Homo sapiens: one gene and its partners. The protein of the gene in region 4 interacts with the protein of the main gene of each other region in a pairwise test. Each region holds a gene or a part of one and is shown on either strand. Other genes may lie near its edges. The genes, in order: ZDHHC17, PPL, MPHOSPH6, KNSTRN, MECOM, DISC1 and MAPK6.

What was found.
Region 1: the proteins of KNSTRN (region 4) and ZDHHC17 interact in a two-hybrid assay, tested with the Homo sapiens proteins (one large-scale study listed by BioGRID and IntAct).
Region 2: the proteins of KNSTRN (region 4) and PPL interact in binary tests that used the Homo sapiens proteins (3 or more experiments, as listed by UniProt).
Region 3: the proteins of KNSTRN (region 4) and MPHOSPH6 interact in a two-hybrid assay, tested with the Homo sapiens proteins (one large-scale study listed by IntAct).
Region 5: the proteins of KNSTRN (region 4) and MECOM interact in a two-hybrid assay, tested with the Homo sapiens proteins (one study listed by BioGRID).
Region 6: the proteins of KNSTRN (region 4) and DISC1 interact in a two-hybrid assay, tested with the Homo sapiens proteins (one large-scale study listed by IntAct).
Region 7: the proteins of KNSTRN (region 4) and MAPK6 interact in a two-hybrid assay, tested with the Homo sapiens proteins (one large-scale study listed by BioGRID and IntAct).

The regions. Positions count from the first base shown.
Region 1 is NC_000012.12:76,812,615-76,816,114, reverse strand, and holds part of ZDHHC17 (palmitoyltransferase ZDHHC17), read right to left. Parts: intron 970-3,500; coding exon 905-969; intron 259-904; coding exon 96-258; intron 1-95. UniProt on the Homo sapiens protein: Palmitoyltransferase that catalyzes the addition of palmitate onto various protein substrates and is involved in a variety of cellular processes.
Region 2 is NC_000016.10:4,927,149-4,930,648, forward strand, and holds part of PPL (periplakin), read right to left. Parts: intron 1-3,500. UniProt on the Homo sapiens protein: Component of the cornified envelope of keratinocytes. May link the cornified envelope to desmosomes and intermediate filaments. May act as a localization signal in PKB/AKT-mediated signaling.
Region 3 is NC_000016.10:82,150,444-82,153,224, reverse strand, and holds part of MPHOSPH6 (M-phase phosphoprotein 6), read left to right. Parts: intron 1-1,710; coding exon 1,711-1,801; intron 1,802-2,781. UniProt on the Homo sapiens protein: RNA-binding protein that associates with the RNA exosome complex. Involved in the 3'-processing of the 7S pre-RNA to the mature 5.8S rRNA and play a role in recruiting the RNA exosome complex to pre-rRNA; this function may include C1D.
Region 4 is NC_000015.10:40,389,221-40,392,720, reverse strand, and holds part of KNSTRN (small kinetochore-associated protein), read right to left. Parts: intron 3,216-3,500; coding exon 3,110-3,215; intron 2,886-3,109; coding exon 2,792-2,885; intron 1,229-2,791; coding exon 1,167-1,228; intron 773-1,166; coding exon 698-772; intron 1-697. UniProt on the Homo sapiens protein: Essential component of the mitotic spindle required for faithful chromosome segregation and progression into anaphase.
Region 5 is NC_000003.12:169,090,213-169,093,712, forward strand, and holds part of MECOM (histone-lysine N-methyltransferase MECOM), read right to left. Parts: intron 2,891-3,500; coding exon 2,746-2,890; intron 25-2,745; coding exon 1-24.
Region 6 is NC_000001.11:231,629,790-231,633,289, reverse strand, and holds part of DISC1 (disrupted in schizophrenia 1 protein), read right to left. Parts: intron 1-3,500. UniProt on the Homo sapiens protein: Involved in the regulation of multiple aspects of embryonic and adult neurogenesis. Required for neural progenitor proliferation in the ventrical/subventrical zone during embryonic brain development and in the adult dentate gyrus of the hippocampus.
Region 7 is NC_000015.10:52,022,219-52,025,718, reverse strand, and holds part of MAPK6 (mitogen-activated protein kinase 6), read right to left. Parts: intron 1-3,500. UniProt on the Homo sapiens protein: Atypical MAPK protein. Phosphorylates microtubule-associated protein 2 (MAP2) and MAPKAPK5.

The DNA of each region.
Region 1 (3,500 bases), on a different chromosome or scaffold from region 4:
TTTCAACTCTGACAGTCTATGAAAAACTTGTTTTATTACAGAATTCACATATTAGCCACATTTCATACAGTATTATCAATATAGAATATTTTTACCTTGATATTCTGGGCATCAACATTAGCTCCAGCTTCCAGAAGAAGGCTAATGACTGTGGTATTCCCTGCTAGCACTGCCCAATGCAGAGCAGTGTTTTTGTGATACTTGTCACCAAGGTTAACTGAAACATTGAATGTTAAAAGCAATCTAGTTGGATCCACACTGAAAAGGAAAAAAAAAAAAAACAAACAACAACAACAACCCTAATTTCAATTATAGAAATCATTACAAATACTAAACTGATTATGCTTACAGTAGCATTCCATTTTGGAACACTTCTAACCTACTCAACAACTTTAAAATCAATAATGAGACAATATTCTAATATGAAGTATTAAGTATGTATGACACCATATAAAATAATATATTAATAGTTTCAGGGGATAAGCAACTTGGTCCTGATATTTTCTATTTTTGACCTAGAAATGGCATTAATACTTATACAATTCAAGAATAACACTTTTTAAAATTTAAATTTGGAGTCTTCCAAAAGTGATCTAAGACAACTTACTAATTAATAAATTTGTCAATATGTAAATCACATGAAAAAATTAATTAATTTTTAAAAAAAGATAACTTCTTTTCTTAGATATTGTTAAAAGAGAAACAGATTAAGGAAGCTCTAATCAGTGAGGGAGAGACAGCACAGAGATACCAGAACATCCAAAATGGTAATTTATATATACTATAGTCATAATAAAAACTGTAAATATTAGTGAGTATAGTATTAACTGCTTTTTCCTCTCTCTTACTTCATATTGTATTATGCTGAAATGGCCTAAATAAGTTTTTTATAGTCATTACATACCTATGTGTTCTATATGCTGCCCACATTAAAGGCGTCATTCCATTCTGATCCATCATATCTACATCCTGATAAAGTAAAAAGAAAAAAAGTCAGACAGTTAAATTATAAGTTCCTAACCAAATTTGCTTGGAAAAATCTAATCTATATATAAAAGGAGAAGCGAATATAATACTACTCAATCAAGGATAATGTATGAAACTTTCTTTCTTAACTTTAAAATGAAACTCTTGTCACTATATACTCTAGTGAACATATATCATGCTTTTACATTATTCCCTTTTAAGATGTTTTAATCAGCCTTTCAATGTTTCACATTTAAAATTCTTAACCTATTCTGACCTTTCAACCACAAAGGATAGGTTAAGTGATTAAGTTTCTGAAAAACTTGTTTATACTAATGCATAAGAGAGAACGACAAAACTGTTTATTCCTAGGCATTTCAAAACAAAAAATAAAAAGAACTGACATTTTAATATACTCAGTTTTTACTGTTACACATGTACATTTTTAGAGTTAAATGATTCTGCAGTTTGTGTGGAAAAAGCAACACACTAAAGCAATCCCCCTGCCTTACTTCCCACCATTTTCACCATTTTTTGGCTCATTATTTTTATATTTACCTCCATATCTTTAAATAAGATGTTTGAATTGCTACTTCTTGATTTTTCAGTTTCAGGCATTATTCTGAAATTCCTTGGTACAAAAAATCTGAATTTTTCTCTTTCCTCTCTGCTACATCACAAATGCACGCCTTTCCTATTCTTTCCTCTCAAGAGATCTATTGTAATTCTGGTTCATATAAACATTTAATACTTGATATGTATTATTATAAATATGCATAAATACTATTCCCAGCCAAACCATGTAATAAACCACTATTTTTCCTCTTCTACTCAATTTTTTGCTTTCCCTGGCACCATCTTTCCCCCACTACTACTTAGTTTTTAGCAAATTATAACTAAAACTTCCACCTATTAAACCGAAACTCTTTCCTAGTTATCTAATTCTCCTTGCGCAAGACTTTCTGATGTATCAGGGACTCTTATCAGTTTCAATGCTCTGAAACTACCTTTCCTAACCCACTCCATTCTGAACTGATTATCCTCTATGCCTGAAATGTGTGTCTCATTAACCTGGAGTACTTTGAAAATAAAAATCATCTCAAATCCATCTTCGTATTCTCAGTGCCCAGCAGAGTAGATGATCGAAAACCATTTATTAAAGGAAAAGACATGCTTATCTATCTACTTTTCTAGGCTTGGCTTTAGAATAAGACATGGTTTTGACTTCCTAGCTCCATCATATAATTGCTATGAGATTGTAGGCTAAATTACTTTAATTCTTAGTCTTAGCTTCCTCATTAAAAAATGTGAAATACAAATAACTTCATAAGACTTCTGTGAAGATTAAATAATGTGTGCAAAGCATCTAGTCAACAGCTGAGAACATAATGGATATTCAATAAATATTAAGTTTCTTCTTCTTCTCTACCCCATCTCCCATTCCTGAATTACATTAAGCAAGCAGTTCTAATCCAAGTTGTGTTACCTAATTCACCAATCAGTGGAGAGAGCAGAGAGTTACAGTAAGCACACTGTAAAACACTATCTCTATGCATCAGTTCTCTGTGAGCCACTGTTAGCAATAGGAATATGTCTCAAATGTGAACATTATCTAAGCATATTGAAGAAAAAAAATCTGAGAACCACTACATTAGATAAGTAAAGCATTTCCTTGGATGTCATTAACTTAGTCACTCACCATGCATACTGTCATAGAATGTTATGCCTTATCCATTACAAATCCATTTCTGGATTTACTTTAATAGTGTTGTCAGGAATATCTTCTGCAACCTCACTCAACATTTCCAATATGCAAGTACATTTTTTAAAATAATCCTGTGGCTTAAAAAAAATATGTTTTCTGAAGAAACAACAAACTTCCTTATTTCTTATATGAGAAGTAACTATTGTGACTTCTTTTACTCCTAATTTCCGTAGGACCTCAACCAAATTTCAGGTCTAATTAAAGCAAGCATGTAAATTCTTATGTTTAAGTTTCTCCTTCTTCTTAGTTGTGTTTTCATATCCTTTTTAAAAAATGATAGTATTAAAAATATCAATAAATAAAAAAATGTAAAATCATGGCACATCTCTAGAGTACTAAAAGAAAAATGAAATTCAACCTTTTCTCTCTTTGGGTCGGGATTTAAAACTTGGTACTTCTTTTCCAAGTTCAGCCTGGACGTATGGGTATTCTCTATTAGGAAGAATTAACAAGCCCAGATCAAAAGCTTATGGGAATTCCATGATCAACAGGGCTCCATAACTTAGCATTTTCCCCTTTTTCTCCTGAAAATCATCCAAAAGAATTGGTAGTGAGCACTAAATATATTTAACAATATAACTAAAACAAAACGATTGTGAAGAATAGAATGACAAAACTGAATGGAAATGTTATATACCCTGACAATGTAAAATTGATATAATTAACAACAAAATGGGAAAATGGAAAAAGGTTGAAATGAAAATATGCTGAGAGCCTCATCTATAGTAGCCATGAATCAAAGAAAACTATCTAAAGCTGAAAAATCAAG
Region 2 (3,500 bases), on a different chromosome or scaffold from region 4:
CGGTGAGATTACAAAACACACACCTTCCCCAAGCTATATGCCATTTTATAAGACACACACACTTGAAACTAAATGATACAGGAAGGTTGAGAATAAAGAATGGAGAGTGACATACCAGGCAACTGATACTGAAGAGAGAAAGCACTGTCCATATATCTCAAAGACAAGAGGGAGCGAGGCAATCCATGTAACTATGTGGTTCCCAACAGCTGCACATCAAAAGAATGATGTCTGGACCCATGTCCATGGAGATTTTGACTTAACTGGTCTTGGAAAGGGCTCTGACATGCTGTTCAAAACTCCTCAGGTGATTCTAATGTACAGCCAGGGATGAGAACAAGGAACTGAACCACAGCAAGGTTTAAAAGAAGCAAGATGCCGAAGAATCCTAGATCTCTATAGGAAGGAAGCCCTGTGAGAAAGCAGTACACAGAATGTGCCCAATGAATACCAGATTGATTGGTCAATTGACTGATTCTCTCACTACTAGAAACTCCTGTGCTAATTAGACAGTAAATGTCCTCACACCCAGCTATTAATCCTGTGGAAATATATCCTAAGATGAGAAGGTTGCTGGTGTAGTAATTCCAGGTCTGTTTTTAAGGCCTAATCTGTTTCTGCCCAGGGAAGGCCGCCCTGCCTCCAGGCCTCTGATGGGGCCTAGGGTTCTGTGTCAGGTGAGTGCTTTTGGGCTCCTTTTACAAACATACAGAAGTTCAAGCTGCTTCAGGTAACACCAAGGCAGGTCTTGAAGACAGGGCAACACAGCAAGACCCTATTTCTACCAAAAATAAATAAATAAATAAAATTAGCTGGGCATGGTTGTGCATGCCTCTAGTCCTGGCTGCTCAGGAGGCTGAGGTGGGAGGATTCATAGCTCACTGCAGCTTTGAATTCCTAGACTCGGGGGATAAACAGGGCTCAAGCCAACTTTGGTGCCCCAAGGCATCAGGATGTCACTCTGGGTTCAGGACCACTGGAGAAAGAGCACCAGCCTCCTTTTTCATTTTTTGAGACAGAGTCTTGCTCTGTTATTCAGGCTGAAGTGCATTGCTGCACTTCACTCACTGCAGCCTTCAACTCTTGGGCTCAAACACAAAATATATTTTGTATTTTTAGTAGGGACAGGGTTTCACCATGTTGGCCAGGCTGGTCTCCAACACCTGACCTTAGGCCTCCCAGAGTGTTGGGATTACAGGCATGGGCCACTGTGCCCGGCCATCTCAGCAGTTCTTACCCAGACACTTTGAGAGGGCTGGCAGGGTGTCCTGGCCGCCCCGCCCATCCTTTCCTAGGCAGAGGGTTTTTGTCATGCTTTGTAAGATAAAACACACCAGAGCTGCTGGCTGAGCCTGCAAGGCCGCAGGGCTGTGGGAGAAATAGAACTTGCAGAATTTTTTGCTGCCCCCACTGCCTGGGCTAGGATTTCAGGCTGATACCTTTTAGGGTTTCAAATTCTCTGCCTTCGCCATGGCGATGGTTTGTTTCCCATCGAAGGGTGGGAAAGGATTCCAAGTTTGTACCACAAAGAAGAGACAGGGCTTCAACCCTGCTTCAATCTCAGATAAGAAACTCTATTTGGCTGGGAGCAGTGGCTCATGCCTGTAATCCCAGCACTTTAGGAAGCCGAGGCAGGTGGATCACCTGAGGTCAGGTGTTTGCGACCAGCCTGGCCAACATGGTGAAACCCCGTCTCTACTAAAAATACAAAATATAGCCAGGCGTGGTGGTGGGCGCCTGTAATCCCAGCTACTTGGGAGGCTGAGGCAGGAGAATCACTTGAACCCAGGAGGCAGAGAGGTTGCAGTGAGCTGAGATTGTGTCACTTCACTCCAGCCTGGGCAACAAAAGTGAAACTCTACCTTAAAAAAAAAAAAAAAAAAAAAAAAAAAAAAGATCTGCCGAGAGTCCTGGAGCGAGTCACTCAAACTCTCTGAGCCTCACTTGGAACGAGAGCTGAGGGTAGAATTTATCTCAGACAATGTAATAATCATAATTTAGGGTGATGGTTTTAAGCTAGCACCCAACCTCAAGGCCTTTCTGTGTTCATACCTTTCCCAGTTCTGGTCCCCTCCCCTCTCACTTCCTTGCAGAGACTCTCCATTTTTGTCTCCCCATCCAGAACCTGCCTGCTTGCCTTCCAGGACTGGGCCCCCTTTGCTTCCTGAGGTCCCTCTTCTTCCTCTCCCAGACCTTTTATTTTGCTATGGACTGGACTCTGAGACCCAGGACTCAGGGCTTGCCTGCAGGCTCTTCCCACGCTGTGCCCCCCGCCAGCTGTGCCCCACGCCAGCTCGCCTTCTCTACTCCACCCTTCACCTAAACTGGAAAACTCGTGATCTACTCAGACATGCAGAAAAGTACTGAAAAGAATCAGCCACGCATGTCCCCACCACCACGGTTTGGTTGATGTTTTCACAGTACCATCTTTGCTGCAGATTTTTCTAAAAAGGAAGAGAAATGTTATTGTTCATTATCCTTTCAGGCCCCTTCTTAGGAGTAGCAGAATTTTAGATTTACTGGTTCTTCCTAAGCCTGTTTTATTTTATTTATTTAGAGACAGGGTCTTGCTCTGTTGCCCAGGCTGGAGTGCAGTGGCACAATCACAGCTCACTGCAGCCTTGAATTCCTGGACTCAGGGATCCTCCCCTCTCAGCCTCCTGAGTAGCTAAGACTAGAGGCATGCACCACCATGCCCAGCTAATTTTTTTTTTTTTTTGGTAGAAATAGGGTCTCACTATGTTGCCCAGGCTCGTCTTCAACTCCTGGCCTCAAGTCATCCTCCCGCCTTGGCCTCCCAAAGCGCTAGGACAAGTGCGAACCACTGCACCTGGTTCCCTAAGCTTTCCAATACATAGACACATCTGCATTCAGGAAGAGTAAGTGGAATTGCTCTGTGTATGTTTCTAAAAATGTATATATGCAAGCATCATCTTTGCATCCTTCATCAACTTGCTTTGCTTGCTCACTGTCATGCCTTTTCGGGTCGTGGATACACACATCCCCGTCACCTTCTGTCAACTGCACTCTCTTTATCCTCTCATCTCCAACTGATCCCCGGGTTCGGCGTGGAGGACCTCTCCTGAAGAAGCCTGTGTGGCTGGGTCAGGGCCCTCCTTTATCTCACTATCACTCCGCATTGCTGCCAGCTGTGTACTCAGCCAACTCTCTGCTCACCGTCCTGCACGCAGGAGGTGACTGGATGGGGACAGGGCAGGGGGCAGCCTGCTCAGGCCTCGCACTCCTTTCCACTAGCTGGAACCCCTGCCCCATTCATCCCCACCTCCGGGCTCTGCTGGTCCTGGGGTGTGAAGCGCAGGGCAATGTATGCTCTCTTGAAATGCTGAGGGAAGGGGAGAATCTTAGCAGTCCCCCATGGCTTACTCTCATTCATTCATTCATTCAGCACGCGTGTAGCACCAGTGTCTGGGGGAAGGCAGCCACACAGCCACATGTGGCTACCCCGGAGTCACATAGCTGCTGAGATAAGAGCTACCAAG
Region 3 (2,781 bases), on a different chromosome or scaffold from region 4:
GATATAAATGTTTCATGTTTCATTCATTATTTGGCCCCTCTTTCTATAGACTGTAACCTCCAGGAGAGCAGAGGCTCCTTTTTTTTCTTTTTTTTTGGAGGTGAGTGTTTGACACTGTCACCCAGGCTGGAGTGCAGTGGCACAATCTTGACTCATTGCAACTTCCACTTCTGGGATGCGAGCAGTTCTCCTGCCTCAGCCACCTGAGTAACTGGGACTACAGGCATCCGCCACTGTGCCCAGCTGAGGCTCTTTTACTGGTGGCTGTTTCCGCAGTTTGATTTAATACACACAGTTTGGTTTAATAAGTGTTTGTTGCATAAGGGAATCTTTATGAGAATCAGAGCCTACTCCGGCAAACAAGCCTTAAAAGCCACATGTTTGCTTTCCTGCCATGCTTTAGGGTTTATGGCCAGGCTGGAGATAGATATGTCACCTTGGATTTACGGTCATGTGGTGGTGACTCAGCAGAGAAATTCTGCTGCAGACAGAAACATCCTGGTCCAGGGAACGCAACCTGCCCCAATGCCATCAGTGGTGTCGTGCTCAGCCCCGTCAGCAGCAACAGTGGTTTTCCTAGGGTCATTCTCTAGCATGATTTTGGTTCTGGTGCAACCACCTAGCGACCGTTATTTCTGCCCGTCTTCCAATTCTGCCCCTTCAGCCTTCCCGGTGATTCTGAGATGCCCAGTACAGCTGGCTCTTTGTGTCACAGATTTTGATATCTACAAGGGGTCCTGGAACCAGTCCCCCTTGGAAATGAAGAGCCTACAGTGTTCTTACAGTAAATTCCTTCTCTGCTGAAGTCATCCAGGGTCAGCCTTTGGTGTTTATAGCTAAGAGCTCTGACTGATAACACTGTTAAAGCTGCTCAAGCCTCTGATTTCCCACTACTTCTCCTGGATTTGTAATAAGAATTTGGTGGGGGCCAAAATCTCAGAAGTCACCACTAAAGAACTTATCCATGTAACCAAAAAACCACCTGTTCCCCAAAAACTATTGAAATTTTTTGAAAAAAATCTGTGTATAAGTGCACCACACAGCTCAGACCTGTGTTCAAGAATCAACGTAAATGCAAGTACAAAAAAGACTGGAAGGAAATATTCAAATATACTAACAGTCCTTTTTATCCTCTTGGTAAGGAGCTTACAGGCAGTTTATAAACTCATACTTTATTCTGCTTTCCAAATTACGTTCCTTAAAATGTGCTGCTTTGATAATTAGAGAATGGAATTTTTGAAATCCCTGAGAACGAAAGACAAAATATGCCAGAAACTTTATTAAAATGATTTGGAGTAGTGTGTCACTGTATACTGTATGTGTATTTTTACATACATATTATTTCCTTTCTGAAAAAGAATTGGAAAAAAATATGGTGAGGGGATGTAAACACAAAAGAAACTTTGCTTCAACTTTGGCAAATTCAAGTTTATTGTCAATACTTTAGATCTTTATATTATGTAGATATTTATGCAAATTAAATGTGGTGTTTAAGAGAGGCTGTGCCTCTAGCTTGCTGCTCTTGTCTCCTAATGCCTTTGCTGACCAAATTAATCAGATTTTATTTTTAACCCTAAGTTAGAAATCTTACTGTATTTTTACTTCATTCTACTGAGAACCATAGGTTGATTATTTTTTTTATTCAAAGTGTTGGCTTTTGTTTGCTGTGCTTTATATATGGAGAAATGCTATTTTTATTTTCCCATTTAGGAGTTTCATAATAGAAGAGCAGAGTTTCTTACTATGTGAAGATCTTCTCTATGGAAGAATGTCATTCAGAGGATTTAATCCTGAGGTTGAGGTATTAAATATAATTGCTTCAAATTAAAAATTTTTCCAATTGAATTTTTTTCTGCTAATAATTGGGCTTAGGTGTTTCTCCACCAGGTACCATTTCTACTCATTATATAGAAAATAACAAGTCTTGAAATATCGCCATAGCTATTTAAAGAAATTGGAGGCATTGCAGTCTAGTTTTATGGTAGAGGTGAGTAGATAATTTCATATAGCAGTATACAGCCCTTGACAGAGCCACCATAAATATTAAAATTTCAAGTTGTGTCTTTTACAGGAACGTCAAGATTTTATTCATATCATGCTATTATGAAAAGTTATTTTCTGGCACCTATACATGTATTTTTTCTAACGGAAAAATGTTACTTTAGAATTATGTCATTTGACTTTTTAATGGACTGTTGTAATCCAAGCTTGTAAGTAGATTTTTAAATGAATCCTTTCGACAGTTTGTTTGAAAAATGAATATTTGCCTTATAACTGAGCTATTCATTTGAATTTTCCTGCTCCAGGATAGAGAAGCAGACCTTTATTTAACAAATATTCATTAGAACTCTGGCTCATATGTTAAAAGCCATCCTATCAAGTACTTGATGAACCAAATGGACACATGAGATATAAATCTTTAGTTTGGTAAATATTACTTGAAGCCAGTGTTTCTTGCCCTTGGCAGTGTTAACATTTGGGGCCAGATAATTCTTTGTGGTGGTGGCTTTCCTAAGAGAATGACGAACCACATCCCTGTCCTCTGTTCTCTACCAACTAAATATCAGTAGCACACACACACCCCACCCTCCTACCCAGCTGTGACAACCAAAAATGTTTCCAGACATTTTCACAGGTTCCCTGGTGGGGAAAATCATCCCCAGTTAAGAACCACTTCTCTAGGAGCCACAGTTAACTAAGCCAATTGCCAGAGTTTATTGAAAGATTCTAGGTTAGTTTTCCTTTTCTTTTTTGGCGGAGTGGGAGGAGGCATGTGTGATA
Region 4 (3,500 bases):
GAAAATCGCTTGAACCCGGGAGGCGGAGGTTGCAGTGAGCCGAGATCACGCCATTGCACTCCAGCCTGGGGGACAACAGTGAGACTTTATCTCCTTGCCCTCCTGGGCCCAAGTGGTCTTCTTGCCTCAGCCTCCTGAGCAGCTGGGACTACAGGTATGTACCACCACGCCTGGCTATTTTCTAAATTTTATTTTGTAGAGATGGGGTCTTGTTATGTTTCCCAGGCTGGTCTCAAACTCCTGGCTTCAAGTAATCCTTCCACCTCAGCCTCCCAAAGTGCTGGGATTATAGGCGTGAGCCACCATGCCTGGCTGATTTCTTAGTTTTGACAAATGTACCAGGATAATGTAAGATGTTACTATTGGGGGTGGAGGAGGAAGTGCATCAAGAAGAATAGCTAATGGATGCTGGGCTCAATACCTAGGTGATGGGATGATCTGTGCAGCTAACCACCATGGCACACGTTTACCTGTGTAACAAGCCTACACACCCTGTACGTGTACCCCTGAACTTAAAAGTTGGAAAAAAAAAAACACGTTACTATCAGGGTAAATTTTCTGTATTATCTTTGTAACTTTCCTATAAATCTAAAATTATTTAGAAAGTTTATTAAAAATAAATAGAAAAACAGAAAAGACCCCACTATAAATCTACCTATCATGGTAGGAAATGGTCAGGGTGATGTCTGCCTCTCACCTGTAACTCCTCCATCTGCTTTTTGGCTGTTTCGTTAAAAAGCTTCAGCTCCTCTTGCAAAGTTTCTAACAGCAACTAAGAGGAAAGCACAATGTAGTAAACAAATCTTCATATAAAACCAGACTTGCATTAGATGATGGCTAACATCCTTTCCACACAGTTCTCAACAAAGGAGTCAGGAGAGAAATTTGATAAAGTATAGAACAGAAGAACGAGAAAGCTCTCTCTACAGGTTTACCTATTATGTGTTTTAAATTTTCAATTCAGACTCACTTATATTTGTAAGCACAAAGCTACCTTTCAAGTAAAATATGCTATTTTGAGTACACATCCCATTTCTCTTTTCTAGCATCACAGATAATCAAAGGCTGTTTCTTGGAGTTTATGGAATATATAGCAGAGACCTTCTTAGATTTACAGAGCCCCACAGTCACTCAGCCCTTGCGCCCTTTCACACCCATGCCCTCACCATAGAGTCCATGTGATCAGTAGTGGATTCTTGTCGTGATGCCAGGGTCTCACTGCCTAAAGCTGATGGATACAACAAAGTCAATCTCACTTAGGGAACTACACACCCTAAACAAAAGAAAATAAAAACCCTCCGTGGACAAGTACAGAAATATTCATGAGGGGAATTTCTCTTAAGTGTCTCATCCTGGACTTTCTCCTAAGTTTTCACCTTGGCAGGGTCACCCATATCTGCCCTGCAAAACTGTATTTTATCTCCTTTCAATCTAGGTTTTGATATGGCCAAAAATTCGGTATACTTTCTCCTTAGGTCAGTGGACAATTTGTCCAAAGGAAATGTATAGGTTGGATTTTTTTTGGTTTTGTTCACAATTCACAAAGCTATTTTTAAGAGCCTTTCAGGCCTTAAAAAATTATTACTTTCGGTAATATCACATGCATGTAATAAACTAAAATCATACAAAATATTTATGGTGTCGGATGTGGTGGTGCACACCTGTAGTCCCAGCTATTTGGGAGGATTGCTTGAGCCCAGGAGTTGGAGGCCAGCCTGGGCAACATAGCGAGATCCCATCTCAAAAAAATAAACAATTTTAAATTTAAAAACATATATATTTATGGTGACTATAAAGAATATCCTAGGCTGGGCATGGTAACTCATGTCTGTAAACCCAGCACTCTGGGAGGCCGAGACAGGCAGATCACTTGAGGTCAGGAGTTTGAGACCAGCCTGACCAACATGGCAAAACCCCATCTCTACTAAAAATACAAAAATTAGCTGGGTGTGGTGGTACACGCCTGTAATCCCAGCTACTCAGGAGGCTGAGGCAGGAGAATCACTTGAACCCAGGAGGAGGAGGTTTCAGTGAGCCGAAATCACACCTCTGCACTTCAGCTTGGGCAATGGAATGAGACTTCATCTCAAAAAAAAAAAAAGAATATCCTCAACTGTAACCTAAAGATTAACCAGTAACATTCAAAGTCAGTATTCCTTAATACAAAAAGGCCTGGGCCCCTTTCCTGGGCATTCTCTGGCTCTTTGACTCAGTCTGAGGCCCTCTTACAGTCTTTGGGCAATTCCTTCTTCTGCTCTCTTTGCTACAGATACTGCTTTCTGGGGGACAGGGTCAGAATAGTAGTCATATTTTAGTCACTGTAATTCTGATGATTAACCAGGTTTAAGAATGCTTGAAATAGTATTTTCTTTCTCTTCCCATTTGGGATTACTAGTATGCTTGAAAGGAAGAGCATGTTCAAACAAAATGTTCCTTTCAAGCACACTAGTAACTTTCCCAAATAGGAAGAGACAGAAAATGTTCTCCCTTGAAAGGAACAAAGTGTTTCTCATCTATTTGCAAGGTCATACCTGTTGGCACTAAATGAATGGCATAAAGTGTTCAGGTAAGAAAGAGATAACCCTCTCTCTATAATCATCTGAAATCCTATTGGCCAGGCAAAAATCAACATCACATGAAAACAAACAGAAGCTTTCCAAAATCTTTAGGGCTTTATGAAAGTAACCCCTGCACATACTGGGCCAGCTGATGCCATGCTGCCAAGATCAACCCCGGAAGGGGCACATGCACCAATTCCTTCAAAGGAGGCTAGCTGTGTGCTGTCTCTTACCTGGATCAAGGCCCTTGCTCTCCAAAATTGCCAAACAGTTGTCCCGAAACTTCTCCAGCAGCTCTACCTTCTGGGTCAGGTCCTTCAGCTCTCCCTATTGGAGCACAGCACAGACAGATCAGGAATTGTCCAACTCCCTAGGGGTGGTTGCCCTTTCTTGCCCTTGCTCTTGGACAGCCATAGCAAAAGCCTGGCTTTTTTTTTCTGCCCTTGGGCATCTGTGCATTAACAAGCTTGCTCATCCAAGGGGCCACCCATCAGGATTCCATGTGGATCGCCCAGTGGCAGCTGGTAACAGAGCTCTGGTGGGTCTCTTACCTGAGTTTCAGTCAACTTCTGGTGCAACTGCTTGTTGACGGCTTCTAACAGCTGGTTCTTGTCCTTGAGCTCTTCCTCTGATTTTTGCTTACTCAGTGGTTTGTAGCTGTAATAATAGTTGTACTTACATGAAAAGATAAAAGGGTTAACAGTATGGCCCACACCAGGTGCGGTAGCTCATGCCTGTAATCCCAGCACTTTGGGAGGCTGAGGCAGGCAGATCACCTGAGGTCGGGAAATCAAGACCAGCCTGACCAAGATAAGAGAAACCCTGTCTCTACTAAAATTACAAAAGATTAGTCAGGCGTGGTGGCGCATGCCTGTAATCCCAGGTATTTGGGAGGCTGAGGCAGGATAATCGCTTGAACCCAGGAGGCGGAGGTTGTGGTGA
Region 5 (3,500 bases), on a different chromosome or scaffold from region 4:
TCTTTAAAATGACTGCCATTCATTCTTTCAAAAGCATTAAAAAAAAAGTCCAATTGTTGGTTTCATTTTTAAAATTGTAATTTGTTCCTTTATTATGTCTTCCCAACAACAGTTTAGATTTTCAACACTTAACATCGGAAATGTTTTATTGTTTATGCTCTACGTCAACCATGAAAAAATAATGTGACTTCACAAATGGGAAGATAAAGAAAAAAATAATTGTATGATTGTTCAGATTATAAATGAAGCCTCTGGCAGAACCCGAAAAACAATCTTGGTCTCCCATTTCTTATCAGACTTTGCTTGATAATTGATATTGCTATATATATCATATAAAAAGGCACATAAGTATGTTCTCAGCACAATTTACCTAATTGCCATGTAAGTACCCACCATTTAAAATAATAGATTTCTGGAAAATTCATATCACTCATGGGCCGTAGCTACAATACACATGCCTAAAGTGACTCTAAAAGTCCAAAGACAATGTTAAAGTAGTTACCAAGAAACAACTGGTATTTACTGATACTAGATGACATTTGTGGTACATTCCACCTAACCACTCTACCCATATTTGGAAGTAATTGACAGCTCACTTATTTGTACTATTTTCAAATTATTTTTTACAGTCTGAATGTGAAATAGTTCCTTGTTTCTCAGGAAAACGCCAGGGTGGAAAAAGCTCAGGTATTACAATGTACCCCCATCACTTTCCCACATAACAAAAATGAGTATAATTTAATATTCAGATTTCCCAGGATTAAAAAATAAATAAAACAATCTTGGATGTGACAAACACACATAGTAAAAATCCATTTGACCAGAAAAAGTCATATCATTATTAAGCTTTTAATAAAAACAATCGCTTAACCTCTTTTATCAAAGAATGGTGAAAACATCTTTTGCACAGACATAAATTAGTTTCCAAACACACTGCCAACTTGCTTGCATGAGTGGATTAAAATTTTTATTTAAAAAAAAGAAAGAAAAAGTAAAAGAACAAAAAGAGTGCATGGATGAAAATCAAAAGTAACAAAAGCCAACATAATTAAGAAAATCTATTTGTTAATTAAGTTTTCAAATGTGGCAATTTACAGAGAATAAATTATTCATCAAAAGTAGCCTGGTAGGAGTTCAGGGGAAAAACTTAGATGACTCAACCTTCTTATTTCTGTGCTGTTTAGACATGCTGAAGCCAGATGTTGCAACTATACAGGCTCACAAATCGCCAATTAAAGGCTAGAAAATTTGAATAGGCATCTCAGAACCCAAATGGTGTGTTTTGTTCAACAGTTCTTATTTGCATCAAGTAAATATCATTATCAAAGTATAAGATCGTCACTGTTTCTTGCTTGTTCTTGCTACTTTGTCCTTCTGATCATCTGCTTCCTCTCTCCCTTTCACAAACAGACAGACAGACACGCACACACACACACAAATGGGCAAGTAAAGGGAAAGGTACATCCAACTGCACACTGGTGTAGTTATCAGACTTCTCAGAGACTGGAAGGGTCTTTTTTCTTGTTTTTCTTTGATACACTTTTATACAAGTTGAAAAACAGAAGTGGTCATTTTTTTTGTTATTTTAGTAAAAAATGTTTATTTGATGTTTGCCTTGAAAAAATTACATAAAATAATTAATTTTGACTTTTGATAACATCAAAAACAGAGGACACTAATCCAATAATACTTGTATGATGAAAAATAATGGAACTTTTAACTAATTTCATGTTATTTTGAAATTTACAATGTAGCATCTGAATTTAATAGGTCACTATATAGTCGTGTTCAGAAAAGTCTACTTCTCAACAATAGATATTTAATTATAGCTTACAGATAAGAAAAATTAAATCCAGTAGTTTTGGTGAAATAGTGTTTCATTAACTTCATATGCAATGTGAAGTGCTGGGTAACTGTTAAGTATTATCATTAACAGCATTAAAAGCTTTTTTAAATGAATTAAGCTATTCATGCTTAATGTTGGTGATGATAAAAGGGAGCCAGTGCATCAGGGCAGTAAAAACAAGGATGTTCATACCCACTGAAACAAACAGACCAGAATTAAATGAGTAGTCACTTAAGAGGACATAAAGTAGCAATAGAATCTTAAGAAGACTATAAAAGCTTCTATGTAAAATATATTTGGGGGAAACTCCATGGGTATTTCATATATAAATGCATACATACATATGTACTATAATATGTATATTACATATATACAGAATATACATATATGTATTTATGTATAATACAGGTATATAGAATCATATATTACCTGTAATATATATAATTTATGATGTATAATAGTAGCCACTATTGATCAGTGATTCAACTGAATCCCTGTGACGGCTTTCTCTTCTACTTCTGAAATTTTGATAACAGATTCTATTCAGCTATCAGATAGCTAAATCCTGGTAAAATTATGGGCTCTGGAACCAGAGAGCTCAGGTTGAATCCCATTGATTACTTATGTGACCTCTGACACAATGGTTTAAGCTTCAATGTCTCCATTCCTTCACTGCTAAAATTATAGTGGCTATCTCATAGGGTTATGATGAAATTAAATTAATTAACACATGTAAAATGCTTGGAAGCATTTAATGTGGTATTTAATATGTACTAAATATATACCAGTCTTTGGTGACTGAAGTAATAGTAGTGCCACAAAAGTGAGCATAGCAAGTATATTTTAAAACATGTTCATTTCAGTCGTCACAGAGTTTAAAAAGTAAAAGACAGCTTTACCTCTCCTCCACATTCCTGGGAGATTGGCTGCCATGGTTGCTGTTCCCAATGAAATTTCGAATTTCTGTGAAGTAAGCATCTTCTTTGTCATCCAGAATCGCACCTGTACTTTCCAGTTCAGAATGAGGCGACGATGTTGCTGTACCTGTGTGGAGCAGAAAGCCTTTTATGACAAAGATTATTGTTTATCTAGCAACTTATTTGGAAACTCACTCCTTATGAATTTGATCAGTGCTGTTTCTTAAAACATGCCCTATGAATATTAATAATAATAACTTTAGAAAGTCAAAGTCTCCCCAGTTTACCATAATACACATGCCCATGACGGTCCTTTGGGAATATATTGAACCACTGAAATCATGAAGTACAGTCTCGCAAAGAAGGTGCTTCTCTCACTAGCTTTTCCTTACCTCTATTGTGACATGAGAATATTTGTATTCACATAATGAGAATTTAGAGTGAGACAAATTATGAACAAGTTTTAAATAGATTCTGCCAAGAGACACTCTATATGAAGTCCTGGTTGCAGTCAACATGCCTTTTTATTTATTTATTTATTTTTTGGCTACTATGCTAAAGCATATAACAAAATACAGTTTAAAGGCACACTGAAAATTCTGCATCCTGGTTTGCTGGGCGAAGCTGTGAGTTGACTCAGAACACTCCAGTCCAGGGGTTGGTGCAGTATTAAAAGGACAATATTAGATATGCTGATTACAGGATGATCTTCCCCTTCCTTGCCTATGCACTGCAAG
Region 6 (3,500 bases), on a different chromosome or scaffold from region 4:
AACTATTTTTAGCAAGTTTTTAATTTAGTCAAAAAGTGATACCTTTCTAATGTGTGGCTGTCATGCTAATTCTAATTCTGAACCAAGTAGCCACTCAATAAACGTTGAATGAATAAATAATGAATTCATGAACAAATAGATTCTTAAGGATCCATTGACATTTAGTGTAACAATAGTAATTACTTGAAAATCTACGTGGTTTTTTGTTTGTTTGTTTTTTTGACGGAGTCTCTCTCTGTAGCCCAGGCTGGAGTGCAGTGACATGATCTTGGCTCACTGCAACCTCTGCCTCCCAGGTTCAAGCGATTCTCCAGCCTCAGCCTCCCAAGTAGCTGGGATTACAGGCACACGCCACCATGCTCAGCTGATTTTTGTATTTTAAGTAGAGATGGGTTTCTGCCATGTTGGCCAGGATGGTCTCGAACTCCTGACCTCAGGTCATCTGCCCACCTTGGCCTCCCAAACTGCTGGAATTACAGGCATGAGCCACTGCGCCTGGCTGAAAATCTAAGTTTTTAAGAGCCATCATAGCTCAAAAAAAAGGGATTCAGTTCAATTCATTTAATGTATCTTAAGCAGGGATGAATTATACAGAACTATGAAATGAAACACAACTTAATGAAAACAGTTCTAAGTAAAAGAAGAGGAGCCAGGTTCTAACAATCACTCTGCTGCTGTTTCTCACTTTTCTCACCTGTAAAAGAAGAAGGCCAGATTACATGATCTCTACTGCCACTTACAACATTCAATACTGTACAATAAATATATGATTTATCTTCAGAGATTGCCATTCCTCACCTCGAGGAGTTTACTGTCTTATTTGCATTTCTCTGAGAGTTCAAACTTTGAACTCTGAAAATAAACGGTAAATGTCCACCCATGACAGGCAAATGTTGTGGCTTAACAGGTAGAATTTTATCCACATTTTTTTATGATGAGCAAGCACAAGGCCACGTGGCTGGAAAATTAACCTGAAGTTGACATGAGAAAAATAATGTGGGGCTACTTATTTCAATCACAGTCATGCATCACTTATTGACAGGGACACTTTCTGAGAAATGTGTCATTAGGTCATTTTGTCATGCAAACACCATAGAGTGTACTCACAAAAACCTAGATGGTATAGGCTATGACACACCTAAGCTATATTGTATAGCTACTGTTCCTAGGCTACAAACCTGTGCAGCATGTTACTGTACTGAATACTGTAGGCAGCCGTAACACAATGGTAAGTACTTTTCCATCTAAACATATCTAAACATAGACAAGGTACAGTAAAAATACACTATAAAAGATGAAAAATGGTACACCTCTATAGGAGGCTTATCATGCATGGAGCTTGCAGGACTGGAAGTTGCTCTGGGTGAGTCAGTGAGTGAGTGGTGAGTGCACGTGAGGGTTGAGGACATAATTTCATGCTACTGTATTTATAAACGCTGTACACTTAGGCTATACTAAATTCATTTAAATTTTTTTCTCAACAATAAATTATCTTTAGCGTACCATAACTTTTTTTACTTTATATATAATAATTTTTAAATTTTTTTAATTTTTTGACTTTTTTATAAAAACACAGCTTAAAACACAAATACATTGTGCAGCTGTACAAAAATATTTTTTCTTTATATCCTTATTATCCTATAAGCTCCTATTTTTAATTTTTATTTTTTTACTTTTCAAACTTTTTGTTAAAAACTAAGACACAAACACACACACTAGCCTGGGCCTACCCAGGGTCAGGATCATCACTATCCCTGCCTTCCACCTCCACACCTTGTCCCGTTGGAAGGCCTTCAAGGCAAAAACACGCATGGAGCCATCATCTCCTATGACAACAATGCCTTCTTCTGATACCTCCTGAAGGACCTGCCTGAGGCGGGTTTACAGTTAACTTTTTTTTACTAAGTAGAAGTACACAAAATAACATTAAAATGTATAGTAAATACTAGGCATTAGGAAATTGACAGCCCAGTATAATCTTATGGGACCACTCTCACATATGTGACATTGACAAAACGTCATTATGCGAGGCATGACTGCACTTATTTTGAGACTATGTCTCTGCATACATAGTTCTCAGTAGCATCATTTGTTAAATAAGGATGCCGACATCTTACCTGCCAGAACACAAGGAGTTTAGCCAACTGGTGTTTTGAAGCTTCATCTGACAATAAGTTCTGTGATTCTGTTTATAAGTCTGTGACGAGTGACCCGAGTGACTGGAGGGAGCCCCATAATGTCTAGCATCCATTTCTGAGTCATGACAAAAAGCCAAAGGGGAAATGGGGCAGGGAAAGGAAGCAGATACAGGACCAGTAGTCATATAAGGGGCTGTGCACACCATGTGAGCCCCTGCCTACCTTCTACAGCTAAATGTCAGTATTTCATTCATTGCCCAGCCACAGTTCTCCCTTCCTGCTTCTACTTGGTGTGAACATTTGAAAGCTCATTGCAAAGTCTTCGCTCAAGAGAAACAGCTGGTGAACTCTGGTTTTGAAAGAAAAAATGGATTCTGAACGGCTAAAGCATCTGGAATTTTAAAAATTACATGATTGTTGCACAGAAGTCATTCGCTAAGGAATTTTTACCACAAAGTCATTAAAGTTAGGAACTAACAACGGAAGACTCCTCGAGGCTAAAAGTCTTATATTACTAAACGGTGCTGACTGAAAAATGGCTCTTCACCGGTGGTTCCAGCTGTGCCAGGAGGGGACCCTCCTCAACCCAGGGTGGCTGCCAAGGGAATCTCTGGAAACAGTGGGCTCTGCTTGGATTCATGAGAACACAGCATATAAACTCAATTACCATCATTATTATCAAAAGAATGATTCTGGCCAGGTGCAATGGTTCACATCTGTAATCCTGGTACTTTGGGAGGTCGAGGCAGAAGTTGCTTGAGGCTCAAGGTCAATCTGGCCAAAATAAGGAGACCCCATCTTTTTTAATTAAAAAAAGAAAAAAAAAGAATGATTCTAATTCTGGTCTAATGACCCTAACCTAAAATATTACCTTTTTTTGTACTCAGAAACTTTGTGTGCTGGTCTTTAAATCTTGTTTAAAGGGCCCGGCGCAGTGGCTCATGCCTGTAATCCCAGCACTTTGGGAGGCTGAGGCGGGCAGATTACAAGGTCAGGAGATCGAGACCATGCTGATCAACATGGTGAAACCCTGTCTGTATTAAAAATACAAAAATTAGCTGGATGTGGTGGTGGGCGCCTGTAATCCCACTACTCGAGAGGCTGAGGCAGGAGAATCGCTTGAACCCAGGAGGCAGAGGTTGCAGTGAGCCGAGATCGTGCCACTGCACTCCAGCCTGGCGACAGAACGAGACTCCGTCTCAAAAAATATATATATTGTTTAAAGGTCACCATTGTACCCTCTCTTTGCTCTGAAGGTCCTGCATCAAACTTTAACCAAAACCACAATAAAATTCAAATATCAACAATTTAGTCTCTAATCCTTCTCCAATCAAAATTTTTAGATTTTAAAAAAAGAAAAAG
Region 7 (3,500 bases), about 12 Mb from region 4:
TTCATGCCATTCTCCTGCCTCAGCCTCCCAAGCAGCTGGGACTACAGGCGCCCGCCACCCGGCTAATTTTTTGTATTTTTAGTAGAGACAGGGTTTCACCATGTTAGCTAGGATGGTCTCGATCTCCTGACCTCGTGATCCGCCCGCCTCAGCCTCCCAAAGTGCTGGCATTACAGGCGTGAGCCACGGCGCCCAGCCCCAACTATTTAAAGGAATTAAAATTAAATAAAAAATTCAATTCCTCAAGTGCACTACTTGCTCGTCAAGTATTCAACAGTCACACATGGCCAATGGCTACCTCACTGGATAGCACAGAACACTTCTATCATCATAGAAAGTTCAACTGGGCAGTGATTAGCTTCCAAATTTTCCATTTGACTTTTTTCAGAAGGGCCAGTGGAAAGAGCAACTCAGAAGACTAACGAGCTGAGCAACCATGTATGCATCATTTTAATTTTTATTTATTTACGTATTTTTTGAGACAGGGTCTCTTGCTGTTGCCCAGGCTGGAACGCTGCGGTGCGATCACGGCTCACTGCAGCCTCAACCTCCTGGGCTCAAGCAATCCTCTCATCTCAGCCTCATAAGTAGCTGGGACTAAAGGTGTGCACCACTACAACAGGCTAATTTTATTTTATTTTGTAGAGACAGGGTCTCACTATGTTGCCCAGGTGTATGCATCGTTTAGCAGTGCTTCTCAAACTGAATGCGCACTGAATGACTTGAAAATCTTGTTAAAATGCAGGTTCTTCCCAGCACGTTAGGAGGCCAGGAGTTTGAGACGAGCATGGGCAACACAGTGAGACTCCAATTCTTAAAAAAAAAAAAAAAAAAAAAAAAGGCAGTGTATGATGGCACATGCCTGTAGTCCCAGCTACTGAGGTGAGAGGATTACTTGAGTCCAGGAGTTCCAGGTGGCAGTGCGTTATGATCACACCACTACACTCCAATCCAAACTGGGCAACAGGGCAAGATTGTGCCTCTTATTTACAAAAAAAGAAGGCCGGGCGCGGTGGCTCATACCTGTAATCCCAGCACTTTGGGAGTGCTGGGCGGGCGGGCGGATCCGAGGCGGGCGGATCACAAGGTCAGGAAATCGAGACCATCCTGGCTAACACGGTGAAACCCCGTCTCTACTAAAAACACAAAAAATTAGCCAGGCGCGGTGGCAGCAGCTGTAGTCCCAGCTACTCAGGAGGCTGAGGCAAGAGAATGGCGTGAACCCAGGAGGCGGAGCTTGCAGTGAGCCAAGATCGTGCCACTGCACTCTAGCCTGGGTGACAGAGTGAGACTCCGTCTCCAAAAAAAAAAAAAAAGAAAAAGAAAAAGTAGATTCTAAGATTCTAATTCAGTAGGACCGTAGGACTGAGATGAAGTCAAGATTCTAACGTCTATCAAGTTCCCAGGTGATGCTAATACTGTTGGTCCAGAAATCACACTTTCAGTACCAAGATCTTAGATCTCTTCAGGCCTTGGTTTCCTTAGCTGTCAAACGATGTACATGAATGAAGCAAGATAATGCCCATGACCCCTCCAAAACACTAATATTTTAAAGTTTTATGATTGTACAGAATTAAATGCATACAGATTTGCACTTTCTGCAGAGGCAGACTTTTCTGAGGTAAATGCTAGGATTCTAAAAAACAAGTTTTATGATACCATTTTTTTCTGTGAAAAAAATACCAAATTTAACGAAAATCAATGGGAAATTGTATTTGCTATACAAACATTCAATCTCTGAACAATTTTTTAGAAATGGACTTAGAAGACTGACATGTATAAAAGACAAAACTTTTAGAACTCTATTGGCTGGGCGCGGTGGCTCATGCCCGTAATCCCAGCACTTTGGGAGGCCCAGGCAGGCGGATCACAAGGTCAGGAGATGAGACCATCCTGGCCAACATAATGAAACCCTGTCTGTACTAAAAAAAATACAAAAATTAGCTGGTCATGGTGGTGCGCACCTGTAGTCCCAGCTACTCGGGAGGCTGAAGCTGAAGAATCGCTTGAACCTAGGAGGTGGAGGTTGCAGTGAGCCGAGATGGCGCGACTGCGCTCCAGCCTGGCAACAGAGGGAGACAGCGTCTCAAAAACAAAAAACAAACAAACAAAAAAACTCTTAGAGAGACACACATTATTTTCCAAATACGCAGTTCATGGAGGTGAAAAAACCAATCAATGCTGGACTAGGCCCAAATCACTGTCACCTTAAAAGCATCAGCTTCACATGAAAGCAACCCCTGGAAAATGCCATTAACTACAGTAACATTGGAGTTGTTTTTGTGAAGTCTCAGTCAAGGCTCTCAGCAATAAAAATGAGCAAAATTCCCACACCACTGGCAGGTTGTAGTGTAATGTTCAACAGCCCACAAAACAGGCTGAAGGAACTAATGAAGGCAGCCAACAATGCCACACAGAATTTACTTCTGAGGCATCTTCTTTCCATTTTAACAGGGGACCTAGAGTAACACAAGGTTCAAATGTAACAAAGAACTGGATAGCAGTGGTAAGAAGGCTCAGCATTTCATAAAGCAGTACCTTGGAGACAGGAAGCAGGCTAAGATATCCAGTTATTTTGTTTGTTTTTCGGTTTTTTTTTTTTTTTTTTTTTTGAGACGGAGTCTCGCTCTGTCACCCAGGCTGGAGTGCACTGGCACAATCTCGGCTCACTGCAACCTCTGCCTCCCGGGTTCAAGCGATTCTCCTGCCTCAGCCTCCTGAGTAGCTGGGATTACAGGCACGTGCCACCACACCCAGCTAATTTTTGTATTTTATTAGAGACGGGGTTTCACCATGTTGGCCAGGATGGTCTCGATTTCCTGACCTCGTGATCTGCCTCCTCAGCCTCCCAAAGTGCTGGGATTACAAGCGTTAGCCACTGCCCCCGGCCTCAGTTTGTTTTTAAACTCTGAATTATGCACTACAGCTAATTACCTATATTTGAAAACAATGCCGAAAATACGTTAAACCTCTAAGTAATGTGATGCTCTGAAAATTTTCAATACTTTTATATTTGTATTTTTATGTTTCCTCTAGTAGGAAATTTTTTTTAAGTTTGAATTAAACTTTGTAAAAAAAAAACCTCTAGGTATAAATCATGCAATACTCTTCCAAAATAGTTCCAAAAATTTAATTCACATTAACAATACATTTTATGGGCTGGGAGCAGGGGCTCACACCTGTAATCCCAACACTCTGGAAGGCTGAGGCAGGCAGATTGCTTGAGCCCAGGAGTTCAAGAACAGCCTGGGCAACACTGTGAACATTCATCTCTACAAAAAATACGAAAAACTAGCCAGGCATGGTCGCACACAGCTGTAGTCCCAGCTCCTCCGGAGGCTGAGGCAGGAAGATCACCTGAGCCCGGGAAGTAGAGGTTGCAGTGAACAGTGATCGCACCACTACACTCCAGCCAGGGTGACAGAGCAAGACCCTGTCTCACAAAAACAACAAACACTTTACTGTCCACAAACTCCTCAAATCCCTTTGGAAAAATAAAC